Linked DNA regions of Homo sapiens: regions 1, 3 and 4 are each reported to be linked to region 2. Evidence: microRNA targets listed by miRTarBase, many of them from high-throughput screens and not tested one by one. Region 2 holds a microRNA gene; each other region holds the end of a gene's coding sequence. Distances are between the middles of the regions.
Evidence for each region. The annotated mature microRNA hsa-miR-548t-5p reads CAAAAGUGAUCGUGGUUUUUG and lies in region 2 at 2,618-2,638, opposite strand. An mRNA with a match to its seed (bases 2 to 7 or 8) in the 3' UTR can be bound and repressed. Matches are read on the target gene's strand: a 7mer-m8 pairs with bases 2 to 8, a 7mer-A1 pairs with bases 2 to 7 and ends in A, and an 8mer does both.

Region 1: the mRNA of TRIAP1 is a reported target of hsa-miR-548t-5p. Seed matches in the 3' UTR shown: 8mer at 5,348-5,355.
Region 3: the mRNA of SLCO5A1 is a reported target of hsa-miR-548t-5p. Seed matches in the 3' UTR shown: 7mer-m8 at 2,723-2,729.
Region 4: miRTarBase lists YTHDC1 as a target of hsa-miR-548t-5p. Seed matches in the 3' UTR shown: 8mer at 6,310-6,317, 7mer-m8 at 6,001-6,007, 7mer-A1 at 5,403-5,409, 7mer-A1 at 4,947-4,953 and 7mer-m8 at 4,583-4,589.

The regions. Positions count from the first base shown.
Region 1 is chr12:120,439,035-120,446,157 of GRCh38, forward strand. It overlaps TRIAP1 (TP53 regulated inhibitor of apoptosis 1), which reads right to left. Exons shown (of 2, transcript NM_016399.3): 2 at 4,930-5,921. The coding sequence ends at 5,838. It overlaps COX6A1 (cytochrome c oxidase subunit 6A1), which reads left to right. Exons shown (of 3, transcript NM_004373.4): 3 at 1,420-1,696. The coding sequence ends at 1,503. It also overlaps the pseudogene LOC124903126. Among named protein-coding and RNA genes, the nearest start is that of TRIAP1, 3.8 kb to the right of the region's middle. RefSeq lists enhancers at 6,532-7,123, 6,691-7,123, 7,105-7,123.
Region 2 is chr4:173,263,684-173,270,806 of GRCh38, reverse strand. It overlaps MIR548T (microRNA 548t), which reads right to left and starts at 2,647; the gene lies at 2,574-2,647. All of the region lies in intron 2 of GALNT7 (polypeptide N-acetylgalactosaminyltransferase 7), which reads right to left. LOC124900812 (a long non-coding RNA gene) reads left to right here. Exons shown (of 3, transcript XR_007058367.1): 2 at 1-6,479.
Region 3 is chr8:69,666,378-69,673,485 of GRCh38, reverse strand. It overlaps SLCO5A1 (solute carrier organic anion transporter family member 5A1), which reads left to right. Exons shown (of 10, transcript NM_030958.3): 10 at 160-6,440. The coding sequence ends at 617. Among named protein-coding and RNA genes, the nearest start is that of SLCO5A1-AS1, 160 kb to the left of the region's middle.
Region 4 is chr4:68,307,566-68,314,688 of GRCh38, forward strand. YTHDC1 (YTH N6-methyladenosine RNA binding protein C1) reads right to left here. Exons shown (of 17, transcript NM_001031732.4): 17 at 2,822-6,758. The coding sequence ends at 6,534. Among named protein-coding and RNA genes, the nearest start is that of YTHDC1, 39 kb to the right of the region's middle.

The DNA of each region.
Region 1 (7,123 bases), not on the chromosome of region 2:
TCTCAAAACAAAACAAAACAGCAACAACAAAACATGGGCATCTGGCAGCTACTAGTTGCATAATGAAGAGACTGACAGCTTTCTCTATTCCCCACCAATACCTTTTCTCGACTGTTTTATCATTGGTTGTTGATGTAGATATATTACAATGTTGTGTCCTCTGTTGTTTGCTGTATCTTTAACAAGGGCTTATTCTGATTCTTCAATACTGGCCATGCGCGGTGGCTCACGCCTGTAATCCCAGCACTTTGGGAGGCCAAGGTGGGTGGATCGCCGGAGGTCAGGAGTTCAAGACCAGCCTCGTCAACATGGCGAAACACTATCTCTACTAAAAGTACAAAAAGTAGCCGGGCGTGGTGGCGGGCGCCTGTAATCCCAGCTACTCGGGAGGCTGCGGTGGGAGAATCTAGGAGGTTGAACCCAGGAGGAGGAGGTTGCAGTGAGCCAAGATCCAGCCATTGCACTGCAGCCTGGGCAACAGGAGTGAAACTCCGTCTCAAAAAAAAATAGTAATAATATACTTGATCTTAGCCAAAAGGCCGAGAAGTGATGAAAAAAGTTATTATTATTATTATTATTATTACATCACCTAGCCCATATAGGACTGGCCTTGTAGAAACTTAACCTAGACTCTTGAATTTGTTGAGTCTTTGAGCGGCACTCCCATCCTTGTACAATGCAATTAGAAGCCAAACAGTAAAGGTTTCTCAGCCTCAGCACTGTTGACATTTGGGGCTGGGTAATTCTTGTTGGGGGGCTATCTTGTGCATTGTGAAATGTTTAGCCATATCCTTGGCCTGTACCCACTAGGTGGCAGTAGTACCTGCGCAACCCCACTCCCGCTTCCCCCTCCCCCGCCCCCATCACAGTGTCTCCCGATACTACCCAGTGTGCCCTGAAGGGGCAAAATCACCCTGGGTTGGAGACCGTTGCCCTAAAGTAATGCTTTTCAAAGGTAATAGGCAAGATAATTCAGGGTGGGCTGCAGTTTCCCAGCCCAGATATTGTTTGAAGTCTGGGATGGTGCCAGAAATCTGCATTTAATTAAGCATCTCCCTCCCCTAATACTGCCACCATTTTGATATAGGTGATTTGAGGATTACACTTTCATAAACACAGCACTGGATATACTAGTTACTAGGGAGAGGATGATGAGTAACTAACTTGAGCTTGCATTTTCTGCCATCCATATTTGTTTCTGGAATTAAAACTGTCCTGTAGCCAGGATAACTTTAAGGGCTCCCCTGGTAGTTATAAGAGCTCCTTAAATAATGGGAAGGTTGAACTACACCAGTAGATAAAGGACTAATTTCCATTTTGTTTTTATATATGATCTGTCACCCCGTTATAAGCAGTTCATGACGGTGTTCTTTCTAAATTATTTTCTGGAATTATCTAACTGACATCTTCACTCCACAGCCGTTTCCCTGGGGAGATGGTAACCATACTCTATTCCATAACCCTCATGTGAATCCACTTCCAACTGGCTACGAAGATGAATAAAGAGAATCTGGACCACTACCCGGGCACCAGGGACCACAGCACTGGTTTGGACCGTTACTCTGCACATGGACCAGAAAAAGTATATGGGACCTTAAGCTCACCTTCTTTACTTGTATCAAATGATGACTGGTATACTGGTCTCCCATCCCTTTGCTTGTGGCAGGAGATGGCTTAAATAAATAACTTAAATTTAGATTGGTCATGAGCTGAGAGTTACTTTCTTTGGTTGTGTTTTTTCGCAGAAATTAGCATTTGAGCTTCAAGTCAGTGTCCAAGTTGAAAAGAAATTGGCATTAGTTATTTCTGTTTCCACAGTGAAGGTCTAGGCTGCTGTTTAGTGTTACAGGTCCAATTCAGCCCATTGAATAAGTGTTTATAACAGCCCCTCTTGGTTTATTGTGCCTGATGTGGATAAAGGGACCAAGTGGAGTGGTGCTAATTAAGCATCAAGATTAGTCCTTGGTCAGGTGCGGTGGCTCATGCCTGTAATCCCAGCACTTTGGGAGGCTGAGGCTGGCAGATCACCTGAGGTCAGGAGTTGGAGATCAGCCGGGCCAACATGATGAAATCCTGTCTCTACTAAAAATACAAAAATTAGTTGGGTGTGGTGGCGCACTCCTATAGCTGGGTGTAGAGGCTTGAACCCGGGAGGTGGAGGTTGCAGTGAGCCAAGATCGTGCCACTGCACTCCAGCCTGGGCAACAGAGTGAGACTCTGTCTCAAAAAACAAAAGATTGGTCCTTGACGGGCCTGAGATATCAAAGACATTGAATGGCTAGCAGAATGCCTGCAATTTACACCTGAAAGAGGTATCTGTATTTCTCAAGAGGAAGTGCTTGATCTGGGTCTCATCTTTTTCCTGTCCCATTCCACTAGCATTTACTGCAGAATCTTCCCTGTAGTCATAATTTTCTTGAACATGTCAAGTTCTTTTTTTTCTTTTTTTTTGAGACGGAGTCTCTCTCTGTTGCCCAGGCTAGAGTGCAGTGGCACGATCTCCACTCACTGCAAGCTCTGCCTCCCAGGTTCAAGCCATTCTCCTGCCTCAGCCTCCCGAGTAGCTGGGACTATAGGCACCCGCCACCACACCCAGCTAATTTTTTGTATTTTCAGTAGACACAGGGTTTCACCATGTTAGCCAGGATGGTCTCGATCTCCTGACCTCGTGATCCACCCGCCTCAGCCTCCCAAAGTGCTGGGATTACAGGCGTGAGCCACCGTGCCTGGCCTCGAATGTGTCAAGTTCTTACTTTGAGGTAATCTCCTTCAGGGCTGGTAGGGTCAGAAATCTTAAGAGAAACAAAGGGAGCGTGACACATTTCTGCTTATTGGCTTTTCTGTGGAATTAAAACTATCCTGCTTTAATGGATAGTAAATGGTAGTAGTAGTAGTTACAAAACCACTCTGAGAGGGCAATTATTATTATTATTATTATTATTATTTTTTTTTTTTTTTTTTTTTTTTTGAGATGGAGTCTCGCTCTGTCGCCCAGGCTGGAGTGCAGTGGCGGGACCTCGGCTCACTGCAAGCTCCACCTCCCGGGTTCACGCCATTCTCCTGCCTCAGCCTCCCAAGTAGCTGGGACTACAGGCGCCCGCCACTACGCCCGGCTACTTTTTTGTATTTTTAGTAGAGACAAGGTTTCACATGTTGGCCAGGCTGGTCTTGAACTCCTAACCTCAGGTGATCTGCCCACCTCAGCCTCCCAAAGTGCTAGGATTACAGGTCTGAGCCACTGTGCCTGGCCAGAGCTGGTTTATTTTATTTTATTTTATTTTTTGAGACAGAGTTTCGCTTTTGTTGCCCAGGCTGGAGTGCAATGGCATGATCTTGGCTCACCACAACCTCCACCTCCCAGGTTCAAGCAATTCTCCTGCCTCACCCTCCTGAGTAGCTGTGATTACAGGCATGTGCCACCACACCTGGCTAATTTTTTGTATTTTAAGTAGAGATGGGGTTTCTCCATGTTGGTCAGGCTAGTCTCAAACTCCCAACCTCAGGTGATCTGCCCACCTCAGTCTCCCAAAGTGCTGGGATTACTGGCGTGAGCCACCGCGCCCAGCCAGCTGGTTTATTCTTAAGGCTCAAAGGAACACTTTCGTGGTAAGGTTCAAGAGGCAACAAGGTATTTCATATTATATTACATTAAACTGGTAACGCAAAAGTAAGGCATATACAGTACGGAATAGAGAATCTCATTGTCTTTGCCATTTTGTAATAATTAACGGAATAGAGAATCTCATTGTCTTTGCCATTTTGTAATATTACAGCCTGCACTTCTGAGTCCCTATAGAGCTGTTTTGGTTGTGGCCAGTCTGAGTTTAGGACAGATGCATTATACTTCAGCTTGCTGCCTGGCCTCCCTTGGCTGGGTTCCAAACATCTTTTATAATCCTTGGATAATGGACCCTAGCCAGTCATAAAATATAAATGAAGAATGTTTTGAAATGACATTAAGGACAAGTCACATTAAATATGATGTAGCAATTGGTAAAGTGGAGAAAAGACAATAGAATTAGGGCCTTCTATAAATCAAGTTTCTTGGTTTATTTTTCAGACAGGGTCTTGCTGTGTCACCCAGCCTGGAGTGCAGTGGTACAATCACAGCTCACTGCAGTCTCCACCTCTCAGGCTCAGGTAATTCTCCCACCTCAGCCTTTAGAGTAGCTGGGACTACAGGCACACACCACCATACCCAGCTAATTTTTTTGTAGAGACAGGGTTTCGCTATGTTGCCCAGGCTGGTCTCAAATTCCTGAGCTCAAGTGATCCGCCCATCCCAGCTTCCCAAAGTGTTAAGACTACAGGCATGAGCCACCATACCCGGCCTGTAATTCAAGTTTCATACTACTTTGGGTATCTAATAAAACCAAATTACTCAATTAATTGTGGGGATTACGTGACATTCTGAGGTAAGTAAGTGCTCTCCTGATCCTTTTTTGGTACCGTAGTGTATTTGTATAGCCTATTGTGGAAATTTTAGAAATCAGTGAGGTTTTGGCTGGGTGCGGTGGCTCATGCCTGTAATCCCAGCACTTCGGGAGGTCAAGAGTTCAAGACCAGCCAACATGGTGAAACCCCATCTCTACTAAAAATACAAAAACTAGCTGGGCATGGTGATGCATGCCTGTAATCCCAGCTACTTGGGAGACTGAGGCAGGAGAATCATTGGAACCCAGGAGGTGGAGTTTGCAGTAAGACAAGATTGCGCCACTGCACTCCAGCCTGGGTGACAGAACCAGACTGTCTCAAAAAAAAAAAATGTGAGGTTTCTGATTGCCATACTGTACCACCTAGCTTAAGACAAGTCACTTTTTCTTCACCTTTAAGTTACAAAACACAAAACTCTCCCCACTGTATATATGAGGTTTGTAGGGTAACAGGGTAATAGTTCCATAAAATGCACTGAGTTCCAGAGGCAAATAATGATAGAAACTAAATGTTACAATTTATTCCATCTTCAGGATTACAGACATTACAGGGCAGGATGAGTAAACAAGGCAAATGAAGCGAGCACCTTCAGCTTCCCCCCTACCCCGACATTTAACCAGATGCAGCATTTTGACATTTTTAGGATATGCAGGTTGACAATTCACTGACTTGGGTTGAGAGCTGGCAATAGCAGATCTTTGCAATTTAGGTTCTTCCTCCACAGCTATTCCAAGTATCTTAATTCCTGAACTGCACACTGAGAGCTCTGAAATGGTGTTCACTGCAACATTCTTGCAGCTTTCACATCTTAATCTGACACCTCTTGTGAAGGCAGGGAACTGTGTTAAAAGCTGTCTTCCTCTTTGCTAATCCAGGCCACCATCAATCTTAACCATTAGTTACTATATAAAAATAAAAGTGTGCTCAAAAGCACTCACTGAAACTGTTGTGCCCAGATCCCTTTTCAGAGCATTAGTTCCCTGAGAGGAAAAAAAGAGGTCCTAACCAATTGCTTTCATAAATAGTGACCCCAGTACAGTGTATATGTCTTTTGCAGCAGAAATCAAGAGGTCAGGCAGCTCTGCTCATCCTGACTAGTTTATCATCGTTTGCATACAAGGTATATTTATGTAAAGCTGATTCCACGCCAAGTATTGCAACCATAATCTCAAAAAAATTGTTCAATTTTAGCACACAGTTCCTGCAAGATACCACAGCAGGTGAGAAATCATCTCAAAGAGTTCATCTTTTACAACTGAGAGGAAAACATCGAAGGAGGAAATAAAACTCCTCTCTCCTAAGTTCCTCATCAAATCTGATGGCTATGTTCACAGAGTTAGTTGACAAAAATCCAGAGTCCTCAATTTCTGGACTTGCGAAATCCTTCAAGGTGACTGTCAAGGTCAAGAAGAATTTTCAGGCTTTTCTTTGCCATGGCCCATGAACTCCAGTCCTTCAATAGGAATCTCTTTCTCCTTTATTGCTTTCTGGTAGGAGGAGAAAACACATTATAAAGACCTACATGAAGCTTAAGTTGCAAGCTTTGTAAATAAAATATGACAGTACAAAAGTAAAATCAAGCTGATTATAAAGACTTATAACCATGATTCAAACCACATACTTTTTAAAAAACAAGTACCGGTCAGGTGTGGTGGCTCACGCCTATAATCGCAGCATTTTGGGAGACCAAGGCAGGTGGATCACTTGAGGCCAGAAGTTAGAGACCAACCTGGCCAACATGGCGAGACCCTGTTTATACTAAAAATACAAAAATTAGCTGGGCATGGTGGCGCATGCCTGTAAGCCCAGCTACTCGGGTGGCTGAGGCATGAGAATAGCTTGAACCTGGGAGGCGGAGGTTGCAGTGAGCTGAGATTGTGCCATTGCACTCCAGGCTGGGAGACAGAGTGAGACTCTGCCTCAAAAATAAATAAAAACCAGAAGTACCATAATGAATAAATCAAGTGTAAGACCTGAGGGAGACTGGAAAAGGAGTTGTGAGGGAACCGTTAAAATTAAGTGAAATTTGAAAAATAATCATCACTTTGTGTTAGTGAAAGACTTAGGTTCAAATCTGGGTTCCAGGACTTACTGGCTATGTGACTAACTGTAAATGGGATGAAGACAGCAACTACCTCGGGGAATTGCTGTGAGGATGTGTTGGGTTAACTTATTGGAAGTGCTTTGCCCGGTGCTGTTCTTAACAATTCAAAGCAGTTCCACATCCATTGGGCCAGAATAAACATTTCCTGGCTGCAGTTGCGGGGACTGGTCAAGAGAGAGAAACAGGCTAACGAAGGGTTTATAACAACAAAAAAATGTGACCCTCCAGTCTGAATTCTGAAGTATAATCCCGCCCAGACCCCAGCAGTAATAGTGGAAAAGTGCACCACCTGCGAAAGAACCAAGGAAACCTGATGCTAGTGAACTCGGATTAATCACTTCCTATTTCTGGGTGTTAGTTTTTTATGTATAAAATATGAGTAACTATGCCCACCTTGCGAGTTTAGGGTGAACACCAAATGAACCAAAGGATGTGACTGTGCTTCTTGAAAAGCACTGCCCCAATATTTGTCATTCGGAGAGACACCCAAGTGGCCTCGGTGGTGATGGTAGGGGAGCGAGCTCCTGCCACTGGCCTCACTGCGACTTTTCTCCACCCTTCCAGTCCAGTCCCAATCCCCGTAAA
Region 2 (7,123 bases):
GAAAACACAAACAAAGATACAAGAGCTCTGCTGGAAGAAATCTTTTACAAGGGCCAGTTGCCAACTTTTGGTGGTTTATAAATCCAAAGAGGAAAGCCAGAGCTTCTGAATTCCAGTATAATGTTCCAAATATTACTGAGTAAATATGTTTAATTATCACCACTTTAAAGCATTTCATGTGGAGGAAAAATTATATCTTTTGATGAAAAAAATCCATCAAAAACCTTAGAAATCCTAAATACTCTGAAGCAATTGAGATAGGCGTCCAAGATTAGCTTCACAGCACTGACCTCTATGGTGATCTTGAATACGAAAGCCTTCATAAAAGAAAGGAGGCTGTTTCCACAGCTTCCTCATTACCTAAGGTATTGGAATGCAGAACATCAATTATCCCCTAAAATATTCCCCAAAACACTTGTCACAAAAACAAGCATTTTTTTTTCAATCTTCAAAACTCAAGATTTCATAGGAGCAATTTGACTGAATCCCTCAGGTACCTAATGTCTCATTTTCTGAAGCTGATGTCAATCTGCTATATCTTTATTCTGGAGAGCACATGCAATTACAAGGGTTATTGCCACAGTTTAAAGGGAAAAACATTTCCCCTGTACCTCCAAATTATCCCACTTTAATTTCAAAGATTTCCCCATGAAATCATCCATATCTTCACATATTGCCAATAATAATTGCGCTATACTTCTGCAGAATGGTTAAAACCAGTGGCTATGGGTCCAAGTACACTTGATTATCTTTTTATATTTTTCAGGTTCTAGAAATATGCATACATTTATATCATCTAGTTCTTTCTTCACAGGACTTTTGTAAACGACTTCTCCCACAATCAGCTGATGAGGTGGGGTGTCTCTAGTTTTACTGGATATGAAACATCCTAGCATCATGACTGCAACTTTTGATCCTCAAGAAGCATTCCTTTTCCTGCATGATTATAAAATTGGACTTTATGGCCGTGGTCTATCGGAGTTTGTTGTATATTTCTTTGAGACCAAGATTGAAGTAAGAAACAGGTGCAATGACTACTTGGAAAGAATTTAAATTACTTCTGTTGAGGAGGAGGAGGAGGAGGGAAGATTAAATCTAAAATTATTAAGTATTCCTGAAAAAAGTCAAAGCTAGTTACCAGGATATTAAATAGATTCAATACAGCATCCAACCATTTAGGAAAGGTGATGCACTTGGGGCCTGAGGATATGATACTATCACATTTACGTGGTCATAAGGACCTTTGAAATTCAGATTAGGTCTGCTTATCAGCAGAGACTATTTCAGCACTAAATCTAATAAATATTCCAATCAGTGCAAAAGACCTCCTGTGTTCCATAGCTCATGTCACTAACTGCAGCAGCTTCTGTTGGGTACACCTTGGCATGATTCCAGCTGCCTTCCCAAGCCCATTTTAGCAGTTAGGTATCTATAAAAGGAGGTGGAAGATAAAGTGGGGAGGGGTGGGAAGGAGCAAGGAAAGATGAATTATGGGCGGAACATATAATAATAACTCGGCCACTTTATTTCTATTCCTTAAATGGAAAAACAAAATTTGATGCTTTTTGGTCTTCACATTTCTAAAAGCCATTATCAGATTTCATTTTTGAAATAAATTAACAGACAAAAAATATTTTGTTTTGTTCTGTGCCTCTGTTGTCTGAGTGCCCCTATAATAAGACATGCTTATCTGACAAACATCAGAGGAGCCATGCCCCTCTGAGAAACATCTTCACTGTTACTGAGATTTGGGTTTATTATAATGGGGTACTGGGCATTTTGCCCACTAACTATATAGTAAATATTTCTGTGATTAACCTGAGCCCCATACTAAATATACAAAAATTCAGTGGCTCCTTATTATTTGTGGATTCTACGTCCACAAATGTGGATTGCAATTGGAGATGCCTGATGGGCATGCACACGAGGATGTTCTGTTTCTTGTTTCTGCTCATAGAGTAAACAAGTGTCCGGGTGCGGTGGCTCACGCCTGTAATCCCAGCACTTTGGGAGGCCAAGAAGGGCGGATCAAGAGGTCAGGAGATTGAGACCATCCTGGCTAACACGGTGAAACCCCATCTCTACTAAAAATACAAAAAAAAAAAAAAATTAGCTGGGCGTGGTGGTGGACGCCTGTAGTCCCAGCTACTCGGGAGGCTGAGGCAGGAGAATGGCGTGAACCTGGGAGGCAGAGCTTGCTGTGAGCCAAGATGGCGCCACGCCTGGGCTACAGAGCGAGACTCCATCTCAAAAAAAAAAAAAAAAAAAAAAAAAAACGAGAGAGAAAACAAGTGTCCTATTTGCAGTTTGTTTGGTGCCACAGATTTTCTCATTTTTGTGCTTTTAGTTGGTAATTTTGCTGTTTAAAACAGCCTCCCGAGAATAATGTCAGTGTGCTACCTGGTATCCTAAGCACAAAGATGCTGTGCTGTGTCCTGTGCAGAAAATCCACGTGAGACAAGCTTTGTTTGGGTGCGAGTTACAGTGCTATTGGCCCTGAGTTCAATGTAAACCCATCAACGTTATAGGTAAAATAAAGTGTCTTTAAATAGATACATGCCTAAAACAAGGTTAGGTTGGTGCAAAAGTAATTGTGGTTTTTGTCATTAAAAAATTGCAAAAACCACGATCACTTTTGCACCACCCTAACATTTTTCTTCACTTCTCTTGACGCAAATTATAGATTCAATCACCCAGCACTTACAAGCAAGCATTTCTTTATCTTAGGTTGACCTTAAGAACTTCTTTGTATTTACTAACTTCCTTTAGGACTCCTCCTCTTTTGTAGTAAGACGGCAGGATGAAATACAATGAAGAGGGTACCATATTTTAAAGATAAGGCTGAATACCACACACCTGGCATGATGAGAGGCCTATACAGAAAAAAGAGCTTCTGAAGCTTCTCTATGCCACACAAGGGATGAAGGTGGCCTCCAACAACTGTGACCTCCAACCGGTGGAGCTCATGTGTGATATGCCTTTTATGTCCTTTAGCACATTTGTTACCCACAATAACTTTACAAGCCAAGTATTATTATCCACAATTGCTAGAAGAGGAAACCAAAGCTCCCTAAATGCTCAATATCATGCTCATCACTCTTTCAGCTCTGTATGGGATTCCCAAAGTGAACCTCATGTGTATTTATGAACTTGGCACTCTCGGATACCATGCAGCACCCCTCATTTTCTGTGAGCTCTGCTTGCTGAGGTGAAGACTCTGCTGCAAAGGGGCCCCTGGTCCTGTGAAGCTGGTCCCCCTGCTGTGCCTATTCTAAGGAATGGCCATTGCTGATGACATTTGCTGGTCTGTGCCCAGGCATGGTTTCCTGGCGCTGCAGAAGCCACTGGCTGGTAATCTGCCTATGGGTGTCCACAAACCCTCAAGTACAGAAATTTGCCATCCTTCAGTTTGACAGGCATTTTAATGGAATGCTCTTTCAGTGTATCTCCCTAGCATTCAGGTACGCGTTTCAGGGGCCAGGCTGGAGGGTGATCTAAGTGACAGGCATGGTACAATGGTAAATTTTGCCCATACCCTCAACACTGATCCTCTACTTCTAGGCCATACTAAGGTGGCTTTTAAAAATTAATATATGATAATAGTACCTATTTATGGGATACATGTGATATATGGATACATGCATATAATGGGTAATGATCAAAGCAGGGTATTTAGGATATGCACCACCTCAAACATTTATCATTTCTTTGTGTTGGGAACATCCCAAATATTCTTTTCTAGCCCTTTTGAAATACACAATACATTGTTGTTAACTATGGTCACCTGCTGTCCTATTGACCATTAGAACTTATTCCTTCCAGCTAACTGTATGTTTATAGCCATTAGCCAACCCCTCTTTATCCCACATCCCAGCCCTCCACACACACACACACACACACACACACACACACACACACACACACACACACACACACACCCTTCCCAGCCTCAGGTAGCCGTCATTATACTCTCTACCTCCATGAGATCAAATTTTTTAGCTTCCACGTGAGTGAGAACATGCAATACTTGTCTTTCGGTGCCTGGCTTATTTTTAACATAATGTCCCCCATGCTCATCCATGTTGCCGAAAATGGCAGGATTTTATTATTTTTATATCTGTTCTCTTATTAATAGTATAACTTCTTACAACTTAGATTTAAGCAGAGGCCCTTCTACATATAATTGGAATTTTATATGTCCACATTTAAAAAGAGTTACCTTGGGATTGATAACATACTTCTTTTGCTCCTAAGTAAAAATTTTTATTACTATAAAATGTTTCACAAATGTATCAAAAATACTACAATTAAAACTACTGCTCTGATCAACACACTTTCGTGCTCTTTTGTCTGGTATAGTGAAAGGTCGGTCCTAGAAGACCTGGATTCATTCTTCTCAGCCACTTAATTTAATCCTGGATGATCACATACTGTTTATACTTGGGATTCCTTATCCACAAAGTGAGGGATCTCTCACAGTACCAAGGAACCCCTCTGGCCCCCTTCAGTTCTAAAATTCTTTTCTTTTCTTTTTCTTTTTCCTTTTTGAGACAGAGTCTTGCTTTGTTGCCCAGGCTGGAGTACAGTGGTGCTATCTCAGCTCACTGCAACGTCCGCCTCTCGGGTTCAAACAATTCTTGTGCCTCAGCCTCCTAAGTAGCTGGGATCATGGCCGCACGCCACTAGGCCCAGCTAATTTTTTTGTATTTGTAGTAGAGACAGGGTTTCGCCATGTTGGCCAGGCTGGTCTCGAAATCCTGGCCTCAAGTGATCCATTTGCTTCATCCTTCCAAGGTGCTGGGATTACAGGCATGAGCCATTGAGCCTGGCCAGTTCTAAAATTCTATGACACATTTAATATATTATGAGCAAGGTTCTTGAAGCGTCCAAGCCATTCCCTTTAAAAGCTACCATGTGACTCCCAAAGTGCAATCTTATGCACTGGGCTCCCATCCATTCTGATAAGCAGTTTATCTGGGCCATTTGAAGACTGAGATGAAAGCAAAGCGCTAGACTCAGAAAAAAGAAATGAAAAAGGTAAAAACTCTGAAAAGACATGTGGAAGAAATTCAAGACAATCCCATATTGCTTCAGAGAAGGAAGAAGGGAGAGAGACAGGGTGGGGGGTGGGGGAGGGAGGGAGATTGGGGGGAATGAGGGGGTCTTGGGGGTGGAGAGACAGAGACAGAGAGAGAGAGAGAGAGAGAGAGAGAGAGAGATGCTTACGCCACCATCACTGCTAGTAAAACAGCTAGCATGTACTTGCTGCTTACCATGTGCTAGGTGGTGAGCTAAACATGTCACAAACCTGAGGTCATGTAGAGAAGGCTGGTAAGGGTAAAGGATAAGGAAATATACGGGATGATAAGCTTTTAGAACAAAAAATAAGTTTTCTATGTTCTAAAAGTCATGAATGTATATACAGAGATATGGGGAAAGACCATGACAACTATTCACCAAACAGTAGCTGGCTCTGGAAAGGTCACTTCTTAGTATGTCAGGCAAAATGGGTTTCCTCCACCCCTGGAGCTGGCACAAACAAAGGCTAATAGAGGAAGACATTCTCATAACAGGATTATATCCTGGAAATGCTAGCATGGTTGAGCTTGGCAATATAAAATGGCTGACTGTCCTCCAGCTAATCCATCTGGTCCCCTGCCTGCTCCTGGGGAAACCGAAGAAGGGCAAGCCTGGTATCCTGGCTGCGTCTGATGCTCTCCTTGCCAGGATGGGCACAGTGTTGAGTGGCTTGTACATGAAGCGCAAGTTTTGCCAAACAGTGCAAGTTGCTAAAGTGCTGGGATCAAAGCAGCATTTGCTTCTGCACCAATACTAGGTAGCCAAGTAAATAGATGCCACATCTATCATTATTTTCCAAAAAGAGCTGTCGCACCTGGCAGTGGCCCAAGGGCTGTGAAGCCACTCCCCCCTCCAGGATGCAGGAAGAGGCAATACCACAAAAGAAAGCATGCCACAAAGTTCAGGCTCGAGTGATAACAGCTGCACACCAGCTGCTTGCTGGCTGGTTCTATTCAGCTTTTTTATCTAGAGAAACAATTGTGGAACACCCAGGGGAGAATGTAGAAACACAGAAAAACTTAATTTTAAAATGAGAGAGACCTGGGAAAACATCTAGGTCTCAGGTTTCCAAACTTGTTGGAGGAGCCCACGGATTTAAAGAAGGTGCCAAGAACAAAAGCATAGAGTTGCCTAGGAAGTCACTTGAAAAAGGATTCTGGGGCTTCTTGTGGTTAAAACAAGTTAGAAAAATTGACGACTCCCTCTTTTTCAGATAAGAAAATTGAGACTCAGAGGATAATACGGAAGAGCAATACCCATCTAACCCTACTGTGTGCTCAGAGAACTCACACCGTATTGGGACAGAGATACAAGAATCAACACCACAGTGTGTAGACTCACACATTATACCTTATAATGGACACTGATGGGAAAAATAAGACAATTTATCATCTTGCAAGGTTGGCTTTGTCTTATAACATTTTGCCTGGTATCATAACCACTCATATCTTAGTTACTCTGGCTTTGGGTGAATTCTTCTGATTCCATTATATATCTGCTTAACGTTTTACAATCATTAGAATACAAACAGTAAGTTACTGCTTACTCAGGTATCATATAGCAGATATTTTTCTTTTGAAAAGGGAAGGGTGGAGGGGGTGGAAAAATCGAAATATGCCCTCAGGTTGGTATATTATTTTCCTACTGAAAATTTGGTCCTAAGACTAACTTTAAAACAATTATTTTGTCTATGTATATCACTACTTATTGATAAAAGTAACTTGCTAAAGGGGGAAGGCTTTGCGTGGAATAGCTTTGCAGATGTTCCAAACCAATGAGCTAGCAGTTTAGAACCTAGGTAATCAGACTAATGTCTGACCACAGGTATTCATCATGTAAATACCATTGATCTTATTTTATGATGTGTTTATATTTATCTTAGCACTATCTCTAGACTTTAAAAAATATGGACAACTTTTGGGAACCCTGTTCAATGAATTCTTGGCATTCCAAAAGCAATCATTACAAAATACTGATATTATAATAAAATACCCAACTAATAAATTGATGAACCTTGAACCCTTGGGTTTTGTTCCCATGAGTT
Region 3 (7,108 bases), not on the chromosome of region 2:
TGATAAAATATGATGCGTCTTAAAAAAAATCTGGTAACACAAGAAAATCCCTCCCCTCAACTGGTTTTAGAGCACACAAGTACCTTGCTAATTTACAAACCTGTTTTCCCTTGGAAGATGTGCTAAGTCTTCGTATTTTCTTCTTCTCCACCCCTCTAGCATACATTCCTACTCCAATCTACTTTGGAGCAGTCATTGACACCACCTGCATGCTCTGGCAACAGGAATGTGGTGTGCAGGGTTCTTGCTGGGAGTACAACGTGACGTCGTTTCGTTTTGTGTATTTTGGTTTGGCTGCCGGCCTCAAATTCGTTGGGTTTATTTTTATTTTTCTGGCCTGGTACTCCATAAAATACAAGGAGGATGGACTGCAGAGGCGGAGGCAGAGAGAATTTCCCCTGAGCACCGTGAGTGAGAGAGTGGGACACCCCGACAATGCCCGGACTAGATCTTGCCCAGCTTTCAGCACCCAGGGAGAATTCCACGAAGAGACTGGCCTGCAAAAAGGGATCCAGTGCGCAGCACAGACCTACCCGGGGCCCTTCCCAGAAGCAATAAGTTCCTCTGCGGACCCGGGGCTGGAAGAGAGCCCCGCTGCCTTGGAGCCGCCCTCCTGAAGCTTGAAAATGGAAGAATTTAGTTTTGTTGGTTGAATTGAAAATGGCGACTTGAGAAACAACTGTGCCTTCTTTTCTTTCTTTCTTTTTTTTAACCTCTACAGACACAATCCTCAAACCAACAAAACTCAGTATACACAGCCGCTATTCATTGAGGGCTGGATACCTCAACAAGACTGAGAGCCTTTCCCCGCTTCTCTCCAAGAAGGAGACGTTCAGCTAGATTTGTTCCCATTTCCGTTGTGTTAATTCAAAGCTCATGCTCCCCTACGGTACAGGCTGAGGTACACGGTTAGCAAAACCATGGGAAGGGGAATGGCGGTGCATATCATTAACTAACACTCCAAACAAAGGTGAGCTTGCCCAGGACTTGGCATTTCCAAATCAAAGTTTTTAGATATGAACACCTACTGTGAGTTCTGCTACAAAGCACAAATGAATTTGTCTCAACTATGCAATTTGATTGGAAAAATGTATGTGCAGCATGTTACATTTACTTTCACGGAATAAAGCAGATATGTTTCTGAAAAGAGGAAGCTGAACTTTCCATCCAGTACTGTTGATAGCATTTTAAGCCATAGCAGTTATAAATCAGGTAGAGTTTTTCAAATGCTTCAGAGGAACCATAGGCATAGTGTGATAGAAGGAACAGCTACTTCAGGTCGTAGGACACATTCTCTTTCAGTCTGCCTGCCCCATCCTAAGATAAAGAGGCTGCTGAATCATAAATCTGATAGCTTAAATATAAACTCCAGTATTCTTTTGTAAGGAGCATTAAAACTAGTGTGCTAAACAATATGGCTAGAAACTGTAATTTGAAATGCATAATAGGGAAAGAAAATGACAGCTTTCTCATCCAAGAAAATTGTTGCAGAAATTTTCTTTAGCTCTACGGGCCCACAAAGTCACTGGGAAAAGTCCCACCTGAGTATTTTAGTTACATCTTGAAAGCACTGGCAAATCTGTGTGGTTTTCTTTTTTTCTGGACAGAAAATTGCTGTGGTTGCTCCTGAAAATGCATACTTATATCAGGAAATCTGTGCCTGGGATATGAAAATCACTTAGAATACAGGAGGAGGGAGATCTGTGTTCTGGAACAGAATATGATCTTAAGTAATTGTTGAAAATTATGTAAAATAAACCAGTCCATCCGAAAGAACCCTACTTTATCAGAGATAGAATCGTTTTACACTACCCTTTGATTCCCCCTTACTGTAAGTTTCTGGCAGTGATTCTGAGAGAGGATTTTTCTGTTCCTAAATGCACTTTGGGTTCATTACCCATCATTCTTTTCAGTACCTCCCAGCACATCACTTTGAAGTAAGCATCATAGAGAATGCTTTCTACATGGCTCTTAAGATAGATGCTTCCTGACGGCGCTAACGGATTGACAGCAAGTTAGCTCAGGGGTTCTGGCTGCCAGGGAGTGTAAGGGCCAAATGCTGATATAATTGTGAACTTTTTCTGCCAAGGAGCCTATGGTCATGGAGGGCTAATTAGGGAAATGTTTTTCTCTTCTGGTTTACCCTTATCCCCAGAAGAGATGTGATTGACAGACTGTTCCATGATTCAGGCTTCTGCTCTCCAACCTTGCTTGACTGCACAGGTGGAATTGTGCAAATACTCCTGGGTATAAGGCTGTTTCCCTCTCTTCCTAGGAATGACATTGGTCAAACAGTTCTCTTGGTTGCATACAGTTTGTGTTAACACTGTTAGACTGAACAATGTCTACAAGGGGTGGAGCTAGTGGTCTCAGGGGCTAAGGACTTCCCTCTGGTTCCTGGGCTTGGCTCTCGGGGAGGTGAGGATTCTTGCTTGGTTAAGACTGTAATTGCACTGGTAATTGTCAGACTCTGGCCAATGTGGCATATATTGGAAGTATTCAAAAAATCTTGCTGATTAAGAAAACCTTGCTGATTGAACTAGTGTCTCCTTTGGGGCCTCAGGGTTCCCCTTTACCCTCTATGGGAGAGCTCTGATCCTTTAAAGGAGAAATTTTCCTTTGGTGTGGGAGTTAAAGATATGTAGATTGGAGAGGTGTGGTGTTTTCTTAATTTTCTTCTGATCATTAAGATACTGCATTGAGAGAATTTTGGTGGGATTGGCACTTTTTCTGGTAGCTAAGATTGCTGGACTCAGCACGGAGTAGTTAGAGAGCCCCCTTACTCCCTTTGCTGCCATGAACAGTCATCCAGTTTGGCGATCACTGATCAGGTGCCAGGTATCTTCAGGTGTCATATTACCTGATTACCATCTGCCACTCCATAAAATCCTTTGGGATGATTGGGCCAGAACTCAAAGAAATGGGCCTGAAATGTGCACCACAGTGTTAATATTGTACTTCCTCAAGTATCTGCTCCTTATAAATAGCAGGTATTTCATTAATGTGTTGTTGGTGAATGTAGACTAAGTAGTAAAAATCATGAGAAAATAAAGCTTTGGAATATGTACCAATTAAGAGTGGTTCACAAAATACTTGGGGCTATGGTAGCATCACTGGAATATTACATAGCCAACTGAAGTGACTGTTTTGTAGATGATACCATTTAATTGTATATATAGGGTCTTATATGTTTCTTAATAAATTGATCCCATTACTTTATAGTCACAGCTCCTATTAGAAGTTTTAATGAAGACTCTCCATGAGCTTAGGCTTCAAATTACTTGTTTTGGAAAAGGTCATCTTGTCCTTTATAAACTGTAAATTCATATATTATTTAGCTTTAATATGCAAATACAATATCCTTGAGTTCATCCTATTAATTTAGAAACTCCCAGGAGGTAAGATGGGTGGTTGGAGCGCATTCTTTGGTTATTTTCATTAGCATTAAGTCCTTATTCTTTATAGGTGGATTTAATTCTTGAAAATATTCAAAAGTAATTCAGAGTCAAGGTGTTGGGGATGGAGAGAAAGGAGGAACAGAGAGGAAAAAAATTAGCATTTGTTGAGTGTTGACGATTTGTAGAGCATTTTGACAAGCACTTAATATACATCATCATTCATTTTGATCCTCTTAATTACCTTGCAAAGATTTGATTCTTTTTTTTTTTTTGAGACAGAGTCTTGCTCTGTCACCCAGGCTGGAGTGCAGTGGCTTAATCTCAGCTCACTGCAACCTCCGCTTCCTGGGTTCAAGTGATTCTCCTGTTTCAGTCTCCTGAGGAACTGGGATTAAGGTGTGTGCCACCACACCCAGCTATTTTTTTTCTATTTTTAGTAGAGAGAGGGTTTCACCATGTTGGCCAGGCTGGTCTTGAACTCCTGACCTCAAGTGATCCACCTGCCTTGGCCTCTCAAAGTGCTGGGATTACAGGCATGAGCCACCATGCCCGGCTGATTTTATTATTTTTTTAAAAAACATATGAAACCAAGACTCAGAGAAGTAAAATAACTCATTTAGGATCATACAGAATGGTAAAGTCAGGATTCAGACATAGATTTCTCTCACTCCATTATTCATTTTTTACACTACGCAATGTATACAATAGCTTTTGGTTAACAAAGGCAAGGTGACTATAAAATCGTGAGATTAAAGCATTTCAATTTTTTGATATATTACCGTTTATGAAGAGTAGAGAGGTTTTTTTGTGTAAATAAAAAAAACTGTAGGAAACATCTGTAGGAAATATCAAGATTTAATGTTTAACTAGATTTTCAAGGTAAATTTACATTTATTTAGCTAAGTGTTATATTAAAGTTATTTGTCATAACATACCTCAAATATTTATTTATAGTTCATATTTAATACAGAACAAATCTAGTCTTCGTGTTAACATCGGGTCTCGGCAGAGTTTCTGAAATGAAACATTATGAAGAAAGGTAGTTCAGATTTGTTGAATCTGAGCTTTAGGGATTTCAAGTGTATTTTTTTTTATTTTCCTCTTTCAGAATATTAACATCTCTATTAGTTTTTTGATGAATATGAGTTTTAAGATTCCTAATAAGGGTTTTAAGTGAACACACATAAAATACATATCAAACCACTGATCCCGATTGTTCCCTTTAGTCGCTGTGACATTGTTACCTTTAGTGGCATGCACTTGGAAATGTCAGCCTTCAGAGAAGGGGGAGTTACATGGAGTAAGGCCTCATGGATGTCATGGTGGTCCTCCATGTTCACCAACCACCAAGAAAATTCTTCTTCAGTCCACAATTCCAGCTTGCGCTCTTTGGTGCACTTGGAGCCAGAAAGTGTCTTTTTGGCCCTGTTTTGTAGAAACCGTGCATGTACCAAAGAGAAACTTTAGAGTTTGGATGGAGCTGAAGCATTGATGGGAATTCCCTAGTGCACCCAGGAGCAGGAGGCAAGCCCAAGCCTCGGGTGGTAGCCAATTATATTTTGTGATCGTGTATGTACTTAAAACATCAGAGATGACACAGCACATGAATATAACTATTGATATGTAGGTGCATACTGAGTATTCTAAGTAGCAGATAGATACCAAAATACTGTATAATCCCAGAATTGCCTAAACTGCAGGTTTGCTAGTTCTCTGTTATACAGACCAGTAGGTAGCCTTTCCACACATTTGTGTTTTCTCTTCCATAATAAGAGAGTGCTGCGGCTGGCAGGCAAAGGTAGTTGCCTCATGCACTTTATCTTTTTGTCTTTTTCTCTTCTTCATCTTTTGGGATGCTGCTGGCTGTATCTGTCCCAAACTTCTTGTTGCATTAGAATCAGATCTGTGTATGTTTGAGGAGGTTTTATTTTAAAGACTTCAGTTTTACTCAGCTCTAGGAAGGGTCAAATACAACAACAACAACAAAAAACAGAAAACAAAAAACCCTCCCTAGGTGTTTGCTTTTGCAACATTAAAAAAAATGCCTTGGTGCTAAAAAGTATTTAATGACGCATGTTCACCACTAAAAAGCGCCACTGAATTCACAGTATTTCACTGCTAAGTGGCTGCATGTACTTTGTGTTTGGAAATCTGAAGAATTTTCCAGAAAACAAGCATCCATTACTCTCATTTCAACAGTTACTCCATCTATGCTGCAAAAATGAAGCGTGAAAGGGGGGATACTTTTCTATGGAATACTCAGTGCTTTTGATATTTATTTTAGCAAGAATAATCAGATGCCAAAAATAATTTCAGAGAAAGGTAGAAAAAATATTTCAGGTAACCTTTTCTTATTTCTTCTCCAAAAAGATTACACCCATGTAAGGTATTTTTAACACTGGGGTTTTGAAGGTGTTATCTTTTCTGGTATCCTATCACTACATGTTAAAATTGAAGGAGAAAATATTATTGAAACTAAAGTAATTGCAGGGACACATTAAACCAAAGGGGTGAACAAAAGAGGTTTAAAGTTTGTATCTAGAAATGAAAAATAAGAATCATTGGTAAGACTAGTACCGATTATTGGCAATTGGTAATTGATAATTGGTAAGAGTAGTACCAAATAATGGGCATTTTTCTTAAAATACATACCTCTACCCCAAACCCCAAATGTTAATTTAGAATCCTGAAACAGGCAAGTCAGGCTCTGACTCTTTTGTTTAAGGAAATGTAATACTGTGTCAACTAAACTGGCATTAGGTTCTTAGTGGAGTGTGTGTTTGTGTGTGTGTGTGTGTGTTTTGTGTAGAGGTATGTTTGTGATGAAAGGTTTTGCACTGTTGCATAAAGAAGTTTGATTTTGTGATTTTTAAAATGATATTCATTTGGAGACTTTTTAAGGTAATTTAAAAGATGTATAATTTCCGTGTGTTTAATGAAATCTGTTGTCGATGTACTAATCTTGGTTTACAGCATCTTGAATACTTGATTATTGAAAATTAAGAAAAAAGTTAAAAATGAATAAAGTGTGTTGGACTGAAATGAAATTGTTTCTAGAACTTTGTTGTTTGAAGGGATGAAGCAATGAGACCAATGCGATTGTCCACCCCTCCTACATCATTAACTCCTTACCTAACTGTTAACTCTACATTGAAGCAGAATGTTCTATGTGTAAAGTTTTAGGAGTATAGTTTAAAGAGCCATAGCATGTTTTTTTTTATTGAGTCTCCAAAGAGAATAATTTTAAGTAATTCATCACTTACTTATTGAAATTCAAAACAGACTTTCAGAACACAGAGCTATGTACCTTGAATGTGATTTGTTAAGTTATACTTAAATAACATATTAACCCTGAAATCTCAATGGCTTCATAACACACAGGTCTGTTTCTCATTCACTTACATATCTATTATGGCTCTGTTCCACATAGTCTTTCAGGGATCCAGGCTGACAGAGGCTCCACCATCTTGAAGTGGCACCACCTGGAACTTTCATCGTTAATATTGGTTGCTGGGGCAAAGAAAGGAAATGCCCTGAGAATGGCAAAAGAGCTTTTCTCTTTCTCAGCCTGGAAGTGCCATGTGTCTATTCTCCCATTTCATTGGCCCTAAGTAGTCTCATGGCTCTGCCTAAGAGCCTGAGGTCCTGAAAATATAGAGGAGTAAATGGTAAGAATTCAGTGGGTATAATTCTTTGCCACATGGTTGACT
Region 4 (7,123 bases), 100 Mb from region 2:
TAAATGTATTGTTTTTCTGGGTGCTATTATAAATGGGATTGTTTTCTTGATTCCTTTTTTAGTTAGGTGATTATCTGTCTATAGAAATGTTACTTTTGTTTCCATGTTGATTTGGTATCCTGCAACTTTTCTGATTTACTCCAACAGTGTTTTTTAAGCATCTTTAAGGGTTTTCAACATATAGGATCATATCATCTGCAAATAGGGATAGTTTTACCTCTGATTTAGATGCCTTTTATTTCTTTTACTTATTTAATTGCTCTTGCTAATCTTTCAAGTACAATGTTGAATAGAAGTGATTAGAGTGAGAATCCTCCCCTGATACCAGATCTTACTGGAAAAACTTTCAGTCGTTCCCCACTGATGTAATATTATCTGTGTGTGTTTTTTATAAATGACTTTTACTATTTTGAGAAACTTTACTTCTATACTTGAAAGTCTTTATTGGGAAAGATGCAGAACTTTGTTAACTTCTTTTCCTGCATCATTTGAAAGGAACATGTGGTTTTTAACATTCTCATAATTCACATGTCACATTGATTGTATATGATAAACCAGGCTTGCATGCCAGGGTTAAATCTCACTTGTCATGATGTATGTTCTTTTTGATGTGTTGTTTAGTTGTTTGCTAATATTTTATTAAAGATTAGTGTATCAATGTTCATTAGAAATATTGCCCTATAGCTATCTTTTCTTACAGTGTCTTTGTCTGCCTTGGATATGAAAGTGATTCTGATGCCATGAAATGTTTGGAAGTATCTCCTCTATTTCTACTTTTTGACCGAGTTTAAGAAGTATTGATAGATTCTTTTATGAACATTTGGTACAATTTGGCCATGAAACCTTCTGGTCCTGTGCTATTCTTGGTTGGAAGGTTTTTAATGACTTCTTCAACTGATTTGTTGGATTGGTTCAAGTTTTCTACTTCTTCCTGACTCAATCTTGGTAGGTTATATTTTTCCAGGAATTTATCTATTTTTTTCTAGATTATCCAATTTGTTGCATATATTTATAATAGGCCTTATAATACTTTACTTGTGAGGCATCTGGTGTAATGTCTCCATTTTCATGTTTGGTTTTATTTATTTGGGTCTTTCCTCTTTTTGTCATAGTCTAGCTAGTATTTTGCTGATCTTATTTTTTCAAAGATTACTTTTTTGCTTTTTTCTGTGTTTTTGTTCTCTGTTTTACTGATTTGTATTATTTTCCTCCTTTTGCTAACTTTGGCTTTAGTTCTTTTTCTAGCTTTTTGAGACATAATGTGGTATGTGCACTAGAAAAGAAATGTATATTCTGCTGTTCTTGGATGGAAAGTTCTGTATGTCTGTTAGGTCCATTTGGTCAAACCCAGTATTTGCTTAATTTTCTGTTTAGTTGAGCTATTCAGTGTTTAAGGCGGGGTACTAAGATCACCAACTATTATTGTACTGCTATCTATTTTTCCTTCACGTACATTTTTTTTTTTTTTTTTTGAGATGGAGTCTCGCTCTGTTGCCCAAGCTGGAGTGCAATGGTGTGATCTCAGTTCACTGCAACCTCCGCCTCCCAGGTTTAAGAGATTCTCCTGTCTCAGCTTCCCGAGTAGTTGGAGTTGCAGGTGCCCACCACCACACCCAGCTAATTTTTGTGTTTTTAGTAAAGATGGGGTTTTGCCATGTTGGTCAGGCTGGTCTCAAACTCCTCACCTCAGGTGATCTGCCCGCCTCAGCCTCCCAAAGTGTTGGGATTACAGGTGTGAGCCATCGCGCCCAGCCAATACTTTCTATATGTATTTAGGTGCTTTGTTATTGGGTGCATATATAATTCTTATGTCATCTTGATGAATTGGCCGCTTTATCATTAATGACCATCTTTGTTTTTGTAACAGCTTTTACCTTGAAGTTTCTTTTATCTAATGTATATTACGCCATCCCTGCTCTTTTTTGGTTACTATTTGTATGGATTTTCCCATTCTTATACTTCCAACTTTTGTGTGTTCTGGAAGCTGAAGTGGGTCTCTTTTAGGCAGCTCAGTTACATTGTTTTTTAATCCATTCAACCACTCTTTACTGGATAATTTAATTCATTTAAAATCAAGGTTATTATTGATAGGTAAGGACCTATTTTGCCATTTTAAAATTGTTTTCTAGTTGTTTTGTAGATTCTTTGTTCATTTCGTCCTCTCTTGTTGTTTACCTTTGTGATATGGTAATTTTCTGTAGTGCTAATAAGCTTTGTCCTTTATCATTGTTTGTGTATCTGTTGTAATTTTTTGGTTTGTGGTTACCATGGGCTTACATAAAATGTTACAGTTGTAATACACTATTTTAAGCTGGTAACAACACAGATCATATAGAATTATTCTAGATTTTTACCCTCTTCCCAACAATTTATATTTTTGTTGCCATAACTTACTTTTTTTTTTTTTTTTTGAGACGGACTCTTGCTTTGTCGCCCAGGCTGGAAGGCAATGGCACAATCTTGGTTCACTGCAACATCTGCCTCCCGGGTTCAGGCGATTCTCCTGCCTCAGCCTCTTGAGTACCTGGGATTACAGGCATGCGCCACCATGCCCCACTAATTTTTGTGTTTTTAGTAGAGGAGGGGTGTCACTATGTTGGCCAGGATGGTCTTGAATGCCTGACCTCAGGTGATCCACCCATCTTGGCCTCCCAAAGTGTTGGGATTACAGGCGTGAGCCACTGCACCCAGTCTTACATTTTTTTACATTGTATATTCCTTAGCTTTTCAGAGCTATTATTTTTGACTGTCTTTCAAATCTCCAGTATGAAGGTTACAAATGAAAATATTTAATAGTCAATAGTCTGTGTTTAAGACATAGTAGTATTTAAGATACATTTAATGTATTTATTAGTATTTAAGACAATAGTCAATAATCTATATTTAAGACACAGAAGAAACTGAAAGTGTAAGATTTAGAAACAAGAGAATCCCCACCCCAAAAAATTAGAGATTAAATGATCTACATGATAGATAACAGAATACTATGCATGGATTGCTTATACTCTAAGGATTCCTATTCCTACTATAAGGAACTTGGGGACTAAACTTGAGCCAGTTCTTTCCTGTGTGCCTCAATTTTAATATGTGTTTCAAACTGCATTTGGAATGTTTCCTACCCAAATAACAAAATCTTAAACATGAAGCTAAAATTATCCATGTGTGTCACAGTCACCCTTACGTTGGGTCAGGGAACTCTAGCTTGGTCAGTTAACTGCTGGCAACAGTTCCTTCTTCAATTCCATGCCCCTGAGGACTCTTAATGGTTAACATTATGACAAGACAGGATGTATGTGACCCTCAGAAAGACCACGACATTCTACAGCAGAATGTAGATATATCCAAGGGCAAGATGCCACACCTGTGATGGCAAAATACTCTGAAAAGTCAAACATTCAGGTGTTATAACTTGTATGAGATCCTGATTTAATGGACATCTGCTAAATTTCCTCTGTCCATGTCTTTTGGAGACTGTCCTTCCTGATGTAATCCTCACAGAGGTGACCATAACATGTGCCTCTCTTGCTTCCCAATGCTGGGAGACAAAGAACCCCATTTCCTTGGAAATACAGATTGGATTACGGCTGGCTCCAAAACCAACATGGCTATTCAGTCCTTTTGGGGAACTGACATGGACACTGGGAGGAAAATAGTCTCTCTCCTGCCACTGAAACTACATGGACAATGGAAGCTTGGAGATAATGGCCATTTTCTGAAAAATTAGACCATGCTTGAAAAAAAGCCATTATGGAGGAAATCATTATGGAGGAAATCAAATCCAAAAATTACATGCTTGAATTTTCACTCCTTTGAACTATTACTCCAGCCAATAAAATCCCTGACCGGATTTCTAAACTCGGAATGACTGAATTTTCTGTTTTTCATCTGAACACATCATACTAATGTAGATTGTTAGAATCACAGCACAGTGGAGTACACGAAAGAAACCATGTCTTCTCACAGTGACAAAAGCTGTCATGTGTACGAATATTAAATAAAACATACTGATTTTTATATACTGACTCTTCTGTACAGAAAAAAATCTTGCATTTTTTATACAATGTTCCGGTAAGTTTATTTTAAAAATTAGGAAAGGAGAAAACAGTGATGATTATGTGAGCCAACAGAATTGTTTAGAATAGTGCCAGATACTTGGTAAAAACTTAATGTTGGCTTTTTAAAATAGATCGACTCAATACTAAGCTCAACATACAAAGCATAACTTAACATCTAATTGGATGGCACTTTAGAAAAATCCTCTGCTTAAGCCTGAAGGAAATGTTAATGTTTAAAAATCTCAGGCCAGGTGCAGTGGCTCACGCCTGTAATCCCAACACTTTAGGAGGCTGAGGCAGGTGAGGTCACTTGAGGTCGAGTTTGAGACCAGCCTGGCCAACATGTTGGAACCCCATCTCTACTAAAATTACAAAAATTAGCGGGGTGTGGTGGTGGGTGCCTGTAGTCCCAGCCATTCGGGAGGCTGAGGCAGGAGGTTGCAGTGAGCCAAGATCATGCCACTGCCCTCCACCTGGGCGACAGACTCCATCTCCAAAACATTTATTAATTTATATACTGTTTTTTCAAAAGTGATGAGGTGGTTTAGAAACACCAAATAAAAACATGGGTAAAATCTTGGCCCATCAATTACTACCTTTCTAATCTTGGGCAAGTTTACTAGCCTCTCTGAGCCCATTTAAATGAGTCTGTATATAAAAGCACAAAGTCTCTATTGCATACAAAGTGCTCAGTATTTATTCCTATTATTTCAGGAAAATACCTTTAATATTACCTACCAGTTTTGTATAATGGTTACAGAAATTCTTAAACTGTAGCTATCATCTTGTCTAGCTTACTGATGAATACACAAAATGCCAATGAAGTGACTTACCATGTATCACTAACCGGTTTAATTAAAGACAATGACAAAACTAGAACCCAGGTTTCCTTAAAAGTACTTTTTCCTCTCTACCACAATGCAGATTTAAAACAAATCCTCAGGCTTTAGTTTTGTCATTGTAAATAAAACTTCTGTGAATGCAGGGAAAGATACTACATGCTGGTATGAATATGAATGCAGTATAACTATAGTTTATTATATCCTTTAAGAGTAAAGTGCCTGTGTTGTTCTTTTCAGGCCAATATAGATTAAATGTAAAACTGTACTATGTGATCTGGTACACAGTACAACTGTTGATACTATAAAAAAATCAAACATTCAAATATTCCTAATGTTTATAAAGGCCAAATTCCAAAGGCCAAAACTCCAGGTGTAACTCAAGAAAAAATTCAAAAAAATTATTTCATAAACTGTTTTCTTGAGCGGCTCTATTTCTATGTTATAGTTGGTTACCACTGGGAGAACTGGACAGTTAACTTAAAATACAGAACTAATACAAGAGGGTTAAAAGTCCATTTATGAAGTAAAGTAGAAAGCATGTACAAAGTCGTTCACTTACAGAAGACTAAAACAACAAATAGAAAACCTAAATAAACGATTCTGTGATCAGAGTAGACTCAAAATGTTATCAGGTGTATAAATACTTAACCAAATTATTAACATAACTCTGTGTATCTTATGTTAGAAATAGAAGTAAGCTTTTAATGCAACAGGCCTAGGTCAATCATTTCTGCTAAAGTGTGCCTCAAAAAAAGCAAATGGGGTTCCTAAAATTCCTGAACAAAAAGCATGCTTTTATGTCCATTATTGCATAATAAAACAAACCTGCAATTGGATAAGAAAAAGATACAAAAGATAACCGTCAATCTTTACCAATTTATTTTATACAAAACAGTAGCAATGTAGAATATGGGAATCGTCTTCCGCTGCCACGCACGCAAGTTGTGAACATTCCAAGCCAATGTATACAATTTGGAGGGGAAGGCTAAACAATAGCATCAACCACGCTACTGAACATAGGAATTTTTCATTTAAAAAGATTAAAAATTAGATAGCAATGTCTTCTTAATATTGCTCTCGTCATTGAAGACTGAGGAAAAATAAAAAGTGACTTTATAAGTTTTTTAAAAAAAGAGGCAATGGGGAAAAAAACAAGAGGCTGCTACAACACTGCCATACAGTCAAACCATCATACTTCAATATTTGCATACTCGATAGCAGCATTATTTTTACTGAACCGTGTGCAACTACATGTAGAAACACATCAAAGCAAAATATCATGGCAGTTATCAATCAAGATCCAAAAAGGAAAAAAACAAACAAAAAAATAACTCTAGGATGAACACACTATAAGAACATTTATGGAGAAAGAATCAGTATCTACATTCTTGGACTGTTCCATTCTGCCCCAATAAAAGTGTCAATTCAACTGTCAGCTGTGGATTTTTGGCGGATTTGAGTTTTTCCAGTTCTTATGATACTGCATGCTTGGAACAAAGGGGGTCATAATAAATCCTTCTACACAATGAACTTCATAGGCAGACAGCTGAAAATAAATTTACTACTTGTAAACACACACAAAAAAAAAATACAAGATTTTTTGTATCTTTAAACAATCAGTGCTTCCAAAAGCCCATTATCTTCTATATCGACCTCTCTCCCCTCGGTCTCTGTCTCGATCACATAATCGCTCTCTTTCTCTTTCTCTATCACGTCCTCTATCTCGCTCTCTGTCTCGTCTGTTATCTCTAGGGCGGTCTCGCTCTCGTTCCCGGTCTCTTTCACGGGGTCTACTTCTCCGGCCACTGACAACAGCTTGTGTGCGACGAAGGAAATCATCCACCCTCATATCATAATCATGCTAGAAAAGGAAAGAAATGTGTTAGGTATGTCAAAAAGGCAAATAGTGTTAAGTGGATCCCTGATTTGAAAAAAAAATTTATATAAACAATTTTAAAATATAAAAAAAGAAAAGTCTCTGTATTATAATCGGCGGAGAGAACAATCCAAAGAAATGCAATAATAAATTAATTCACAGAAGGTAATATGCTGACATGGTTTAGAAAAAGGATGATGCCTCATTAGACATCTACAACAGATTATTCAAATCTCTTTATGCAGTTTTCCACTTAACTTTAATGACTTTTCCATCTGATCCCTTCAGTAAGATTTAGGCCAAAGATATTAACTAGTGATGACCTTCAACTATTATCCATATATACTGCC